Homo sapiens: one gene and its partner. The protein of the gene in region 2 purifies or fractionates together with the protein of the main gene of each other region. This does not show direct contact. Each region holds a gene or a part of one and is shown on either strand. Other genes may lie near its edges. The genes, in order: OTUD7B and RHBDL2.

Region 1 (3,820 bases), about 110 Mb from region 2:
TATTTCACTCAATGTCTCAGACACCCAGGCACAACGTGTCACAGTTGTAGTTGACTCATCACCCTTCTTCATCTCCCACATCCACCCCTCATTAATTTCCATTTTTCCTTCACAGTCTCTTTTTCACTCTTTCCTCTCCTTAGCCTACCCTCCACAACTCTAACTCGGGCCTCATCACTTCACACACCCCCAGTGTCAATCTCCATTCCCTCCCAGCCAACCTGTGTATTAGTATCATCATACTGCTATTCTATTCAAAAATCTTCTACCATTTAAAATATAAAGTTGACCGGGCACGGTGGCTCATGCCTGTCATCCCAGCACTTTGGGAAGCTAAGGTGGGCGGATCACTTGAGGTCAGGAGTTTGAGACCAGCCTGGCCAACATGGTGAAATCCTGTCTCTACTAAAAATACAAAAATTAGCTGGGCATGCTGGTGCACGCCTGTAATCCCAGCTACTCAGGAGGCTGAGGCACGAGAATCACTTGAACCCAGGAGGCGGAGGTTGCAGTCAGCCAAGATTGTGTCACTGCACTCCAGCCTGAGCTGGACAACAGAGCAAGACCCTGTCTCAAAAAAATAAATAAATAAATACATAAATAAATAAATAAATAAATTTTATATATATATATAAACTTATAAGCCTAGCTTTTTAACACCCTCTATAAACATAGCTCCAAACCAACCTACCCACCTTCATTTCACTACTGCTCACTGCCACTCAGGTTAGTCTCCTCACCGCCCCAAGAACATCTCAGGTATAGTCCTGTTTCCAGGCTTTCGCTTGATCCCTTTCAGCTCCAATATGAAATGTTTTGTTATCCTCTTCATCTTCATCCCTTGTACCTAATACAATAACACTTATTCATTTATTTTTTTATTTATTTTGGAGACAGAGTCTTGCTCTGTCACCCAGGCTGGAGTGCAGTGGTGCTATCTCGGCTGTTTGCAACCTCCATCTCCTGGGTTCAAGTGATTCTCCTGCCTCAGCCTCCTGAGTAGCTGGGATTACAGGCGTGAGCCACTGTGCCTGGCCTATTTTTTTATTAAGATCTGAAATGAGTTATAATTCCTCTGTGACATAACTACCTGAGTACTCCTCTCCCCAAATACCTACGGTATGAGGTCTGCACTATGCAACTAACAATATAGTTTCACATTTTAAAATTTTGTGTGGCATATTAAGAGGCTCAGCAAGTATTCATTCCTTTTTATTCTTCTTACTCCCAACTGGACTGTAAACTCTTCAAGGACACAAAGTTGTCATTTTTCCTAATCCTCCATAGCACCTAGCAAAGAATTAAACTCATAGTGGGTCACTACAAATAACAGTTTAGTAATTTTCTTATCTACAGCTATTTCTTAGAGGAAATAAAGGGCTAAGGTATAATCCTAAAAAAAGCACAGTTGAAAATAATCCCTATCTAGTTGTATAAAATAAGATTCCTGACTTTTCCACCTGATTTCTAGCTCAGAAATACTACAATCTCCTGACTCAAGAAGTAAATAATAATCCTGTGCTCGTGACATCAGTTTGGTAATGATTATAAAGAGGTGGGGGAGAGTGGCAGGGATGGAGAAAAGCAAGTCAACTGGAGAAGAAAAAAAAGGGATGAAAGAATGGCATGTGATTTTGTTTACTTCTTAAATGTGGACACTTCTGCCCATTCCTTTTTTTTTTAATTGGACATACTTTCAAACAACTTTCCTACAGGAGGAAAAGTCTGACAGATTTTCAATGAAGCTGATATCTGGAAGAGCCTCTACAAAGCACAAGTCCTTTGAGAAAGCCGGCTTAATCTTCAACAACACAACATAATGTAGTGGCATTCGTCCAGATACTGTGAATGAAGGCTCATTCTGGCTGGAACACAAGCATCACCTGCCAGTCATTCTCAGACATAAGACAGACAGCCTAGGAGGCCACATTGGATCCATACAGATTTTGAAAAGAAATTGGTCTATCAACATATTCAGTGTAGTCTAGTCTTAATTATCTACAAATGGATTATTCATTTTACGGATTTCTAAGGCCAAATCTTTAATGCAAGAATGACTGTTCTTCATCATCAGTGTACTCTCCCCACCATCAGGTAATATAAGCTTAGAAATGCAAATTTATTTCAATATTAGTATGATCCCCAAAAATGAAAATAAATCTAGTTTAAAAAATAATGTATTTTCGGCCCGGCACACTGGCTCACGCCTGTAATCCCAGCACTTTGGGAGGCCGAGTCAGGCGGATCACGAGGTCAGGAGATCAAGACCATCCTGGCTAACACGGTGAAACCCCGTCTCTACTAAAAATACAAAAAATTAACCGGGCGTGGTGGTGGGCGCCTGTAGTCCCAGCTACTCGGGAGGCTGAGGCAGGACAATGGCATGAACCTGGGAGGCAGAGCTTGCAGTAAGCTGAGATTGCGCCACTGTACTTCAGTCTGGGAGCAAAGTTGTCATTTTTCCTAAACCTCCATAGCACCTAGCAAAGAATTAAACTCATAGTGGGTCACTACAAATAACAGTTTAGTAATTTTTCTTATCTAAAACTATTTCTTAGAGGAAATAAAGGGATAAGGTATAATCCTAAAAAAAACACAGTTGAAAATAACCAGGAAATGTCTTTGTTAAGTTCTGAATTACCTACAACAGTGCTCCCTACATTAGCAGAGACAACTGAGAGTTAAATGCACTTGAAACATAATGCTGTCCTTACTATAAGCTCTTGAGGAGAATCCGGCCATAGTCTTGAGACTTCCCCACAGGTTGGTGCACTACGAGACAGGAACAAGCAGGCTCAGCATAGTAAGGTGTGTAAACACAAAAACTTCTACAAGGAATCTTATGCCTCCTGGCTGTATCCCTTCAGGTTAGGATGGTACAGAAAATAAGAGTCACAATGTACGGATGCCTGCCTGATTCCTTGTCCCTGAGTTCCTGAACCAAAGGGCTCAATATTTCTCATTAAATCCGTCCTTTGTTCAAGGACCTACAATGATTCTATTGACCCTTCTATCAACACCCAACAGAGTCTGGCTTCTGAGTCCCCTCCACCCTCTTGCCTGCTCTACTCATGACTTGCCCAACCCACATTCTCTACAGTCACTCTCATATATTCCCCCCACTCACAACTTAGTCATTCATATCATCATTGCACACTGTACATTCTATACTTTCTGTTTGGAAGATCCTTTCTTTTCTTTTATTCCCAACACAGTAACTATTTCATTTACTTGAATGCTCACATTTTACAGATAAGGAAAAGAAGTTAACTTGTCCAAGGTCACATGGTAAAAAATAGCCGCAAGGTCTGAACGAAGACCCATCTAACTCAATAGCCCATACCTCTTTATGACTCATCCATAGCCTCCCAAGTCCATTTCAAAATTTACTGACTCAGAAATCTCCCCAATTTATTTCACTGATTCTTACTTTGTTACTTTAAGTCTTCTCAGCCCTTACATACTTATCAGCACGTTAAATTTGCTTTTGTCTATATGTTGTTTCCTAAATGTTAAAGCTCATAATAGTCTGCCTTCCCATATTTATACACCACCTTTCCCATCCACCCTCAACCCCAAGAGCAAAGACACATGTCTTTACATCTTTTATACCTCCCTAAAGCCTGTCACTGGAGCATGGAGACTGCTTTATCCAGAGAAGTGTTCAATCATTACTCAGCAAGGATGTCTTATTTAAAAACAAACAAACAACTCTCTTCTATTATATTAAAAAGTCAACTGAATTCAGGCATTCATGAGAAAAACTGCCCTGTATCTATCTTCCAGTTACACAAATTTTTAATTACCTGAATTTATCAGA
Region 2 (3,820 bases):
TCATTGTTCCCCATTCACCTGGACAAGACACACACACAGCTGATTGAAACACAAGACAACCCATAGGCCAGAAGGATAACAGGAAGGAGAAGCAGAAAAAACAGATACAGATGTCTCAGATCCGGACGACTTCCCAGTTGCAAGCAGTCTCACAGTGAAATCCTGTGAAAAAAATTAGAACTGTGCCCCTTCACCCTAAACAGACTTGACCACAGCATCTCCCAGGATGCTTACACCTTAGCCTTACCTTTGTCTGAGCCATAAGAGGCTTGGTCCCTGCAACAGTTAATTTTATGTGTCAACTTAGCTAGGCTATGCTACCCAGACATTTGCTTAAACATTATCCTAGGTGTTTTTGTGAGGGTATGGTTTATACTAATATTTAAATCAGTAGTCTTTGAGTAAAGCCGATTTCCCACCATACTGTGGGTGAGCCTTGTCTAATCAGTTGAAGGCCTTGCTAGAGAAAAGATTGTCCTCTGTTAGGAAAAGGGAATTCTGCCAGCAGAACTCTACCTTTGGACTTGAATGGCAAGTCTTCCCTGGGCCTCCAGCCTGCCAGCCTTCCCTGAAGATTTTGGACTTGCCAAGTCTCCATAATCATTTGAGCTAATTCCTTAAAATAAATATTAATCTCTCTTCCCCCAGGGAACACACACCTATTGATTCTGTTTTTCTGAAGAACTCTTGACTAATACAGTTTGTGATAAGGAAGCTGAGGCATCAGTGCATCAGTGGGAACTAAAAGGGTTACATTAGGAACTTCCTAATGCCCCTGAAGTCACACTCCACAGGCAGCCATGGTTGGCCAGTTCCTTTATAGGACATCAAGTGTGGGGGAAAAAACTAGGTGCCACGAGGTACAGGGGAGCCTCATCCTGGCCCAGTGACTATGATGTGACCTTGGGATAGTCATCCCACCTCTCTGAGCCTTGCAGTCTTTTCTGGAAAACAAGAGGACTGACTAGATCAGAGCCTGAAAACACACCACGTGCTGCCTGAAGTAGACATTGTTAAAGGATCCCGTTTTTTTCCTACTGAAATTCAGAAGAATTCTATAACACTTCTAAACCTGGGGTCCCAGAAATGCCTTACCAACCAGCCTAAATCGGTTCATGAGAGAAAGCCCTTGTGCAACCCCAGAATGATTTGCTTCCTAAAGACCTCACAACTAAAATGAAAGGAAGCCACTGAAATTGCAGCCACAGCTGGGCAGATTTGTCTGACAAATGAAACTCCACCCTGGGTTGGCAGTGACCGTGAGTATAGGGAAAGCCTCAAAGGCAGCTGTGGGGAGAGCAGAGGCAGAGGTGAGGTGTGTGCTGTCCCCATCCCCACGAAGCTCTCTCCCATGTTCCCAGTCTCTTCTCTAGATCTAGATCTGACCCCTAGTTTGTTCCCAGCTTCCCCATGCCACTTACCCCGGTGCCCACCCCGCTCCCCATTCACCTCGGCCAGGCTGATGGAGATGATGAACACGGGAGGCGGGAAGCAGTTAGCTCTCTCCAAGTATGTTCCTCGGGACTTTTCGGGCAGCATCCATTTTGAGACAATCCTGTGGACCTTTTTACTCTTGGCCCGATCTTTACCTCCCCCATCCTCTCTCATTTTCTCCTCTTCCTCCAGCTCTTCTTTCATCTCTCTCCCCATATTCAGATTCATGCTCTCCATCTCCAGATCATGAACAGCAGCCATTGTCCTGGGTCCTCCCTCCTCCCCAGAAGGACATGAATCCCAGGGAACAGCAGGTGGCCCTAGGTCCTCAGGCTGCCGCTCTTCCCTGGGCTGTCTGGCGCAACGACTGCTTTCCAAGGCCTTTCCTGTATGTGAAGAGAAGACAGCTGAAGATGATCAAAATGATCTAAACCTCCTAAATGGCCCAAAATAAAGTTTTCTATGTAATTGTTTTAAAAAGAGCCAGATGACTGAGATTAAAATGCAGCTCTACCATGTATCAGCTGTAAGTTAACATCAGATAAATCACTTAATTAAATTCTCCAAGCCTCAAATTACATATTTCTTAAATTGTGGTGAAATACACATAACATAAAATTTACCATTTTCGCCATTTAATATATAATATATATTTTTTCTTTTTTTTTTTATGAGGTGGAGTCATCTTGCTCTTCTGCCCAGGCTGGAGTGCAATGGCGAGATCTCAGCTCACTGCAACCTCTGCCTCCTGGGTTCAAGCAATTCTTCTGCTTCACCCTCCCTGGCTAATTTTTGTATTTTTAGTAGAGACAGGGTTTCACCATGTTGGCCAGGCTGGTCTCGAACTCCTGACCTCAAGTGATTCACCCGCCTAGGCCTCCCAAAGTGCTGGGATTACAGGCGTGAGCCACCGAAGCCGGCCCTGTTTTTAACCATTTAGAGTGTACAATTCAGTGACATTGAGTACATTTGCAATGTTGTGCAGCCATCACCACTAGTTCCAAAACTTTTTCATCACAAACAAAAACCCCATACCCATACCTGTTAAGCAGTTAATTCCTATTCTCCTCTTACCACAGTCCCTGGCAACGACTAATCTGCTTTCTGTGTCTATAGATTGACCTATACTGGATATTTCACATAAATGAAATCATACAATACATATGTACCATCCAGTATGTGGCCTTTTGTGGTTGGCTTCCTTCACATGTTTTCTTTTTTTTTTTTTTTTTTTGAGATGTAGTCTCGCTCTGTCACCCAGGCTGGAGTCCAGTGGTGCGATCTCGGCTCACTGGAACCTCTGCCTCCCAGGTTCAAGCGATTCTCCTGCCTCAGCCTACCAAGTAGCTGGGATTATGGGCACCCGGCACCACACCCAGAAAATTTTTGTATTTTTAGTAGAGACAGGGTTTCACCATGTTGGCCAGGCTAGTCTCGAACTCCCAACCTCAAGTGATCCACCTGCCTCGGCCTCCCAAAGTGTTGGGATTACAGGCATGAGCCATTACACCTGGCCTAGAATTTCCTTTTTTTAATGGCTGAATGCTATTGCATTGTATAGACACGCCACATTTTGTTTATCCACTCGTCTGTTTATGGACATTTGGGTTGTTTCCACCTTTTCGCTATTGTGAACATCCCTGTACAAGTTTTCTCTTTTTTTTTTTTTTTTTGAGACAGAGTCTCGCTCTGTCGCCCAGGCTGGAGAGCAGTGGTGTGATCTCGGCTCACTGCAACCTCCGCCTCCCGGGTTCACACCATTTTCCTGCCTCAACCTCCTGAGTAGCTGGGACTACAGGTGCCCACCACCACACCTGGCTAATTTTTTTTTTTTTTTGTATTTTTAGTAGAGACAGGGTTTCACCATGTTAGCCAGGATGGTCTCGATCTCCTGACCTCGTGATCCGCCCGCCTCGGCCTCCCAAAGTGCTGGGATTACAGGCATGAGCCACCGCACCTGGCACAAGTTTTCTTTAAACATCAGTTTCCAGTTTGAGGGGGAGCATATACCTATGAGTGGAATTGCTGGGTCATATGGTAATTAATTCTATGTTTAACTTGTTGGGAAACCCTCAGATTCCATTTTAAACTGAGGATAATGATAGCACTTGCTTCATAACATTGCCGGGAAGCTTACTTGAGATAATGCATGTAAAGCACTTAAAACAGTATCTGGGCCGGGCGTGGTGGCTCACGCCTGTAATCCCATCACTTGAGGTCAGGAGTTTCAGAACAGACTGGCCAACCTGGTGAAACGCCATCTCTACTAAAAATACAAAAATTAGCTGGGCATAGTGGCACGTGCCTGTACTTCCAGCTGAAGGAAGGCTGAAGCAGGAGAATCGCTTGAACCTGGGAGGCAGAGGTTACAGTGAGCCAAATTCAC

What was found.
Region 1: the proteins of RHBDL2 (region 2) and OTUD7B purify together in Homo sapiens (affinity purification with western blotting; one study listed by BioGRID). This does not show direct contact.

Annotation. Positions count from the first base shown.
Region 1 is NC_000001.11:150,003,991-150,007,810, forward strand, and holds part of OTUD7B (OTU domain-containing protein 7B), read right to left. Parts: exon of another isoform or gene 2,715-3,820; intron 1-2,714. UniProt on the Homo sapiens protein: Negative regulator of the non-canonical NF-kappa-B pathway that acts by mediating deubiquitination of TRAF3, an inhibitor of the NF-kappa-B pathway, thereby acting as a negative regulator of B-cell responses.
Region 2 is NC_000001.11:38,917,518-38,921,337, forward strand, and holds part of RHBDL2 (rhomboid-related protein 2), read right to left. Parts: intron 2,013-3,820; exon of another isoform or gene 1,821-2,012; coding exon of another isoform or gene 1,696-1,820; coding exon 1,450-1,695; intron 1-1,449. UniProt on the Homo sapiens protein: Involved in regulated intramembrane proteolysis and the subsequent release of functional polypeptides from their membrane anchors. Known substrate: EFNB3.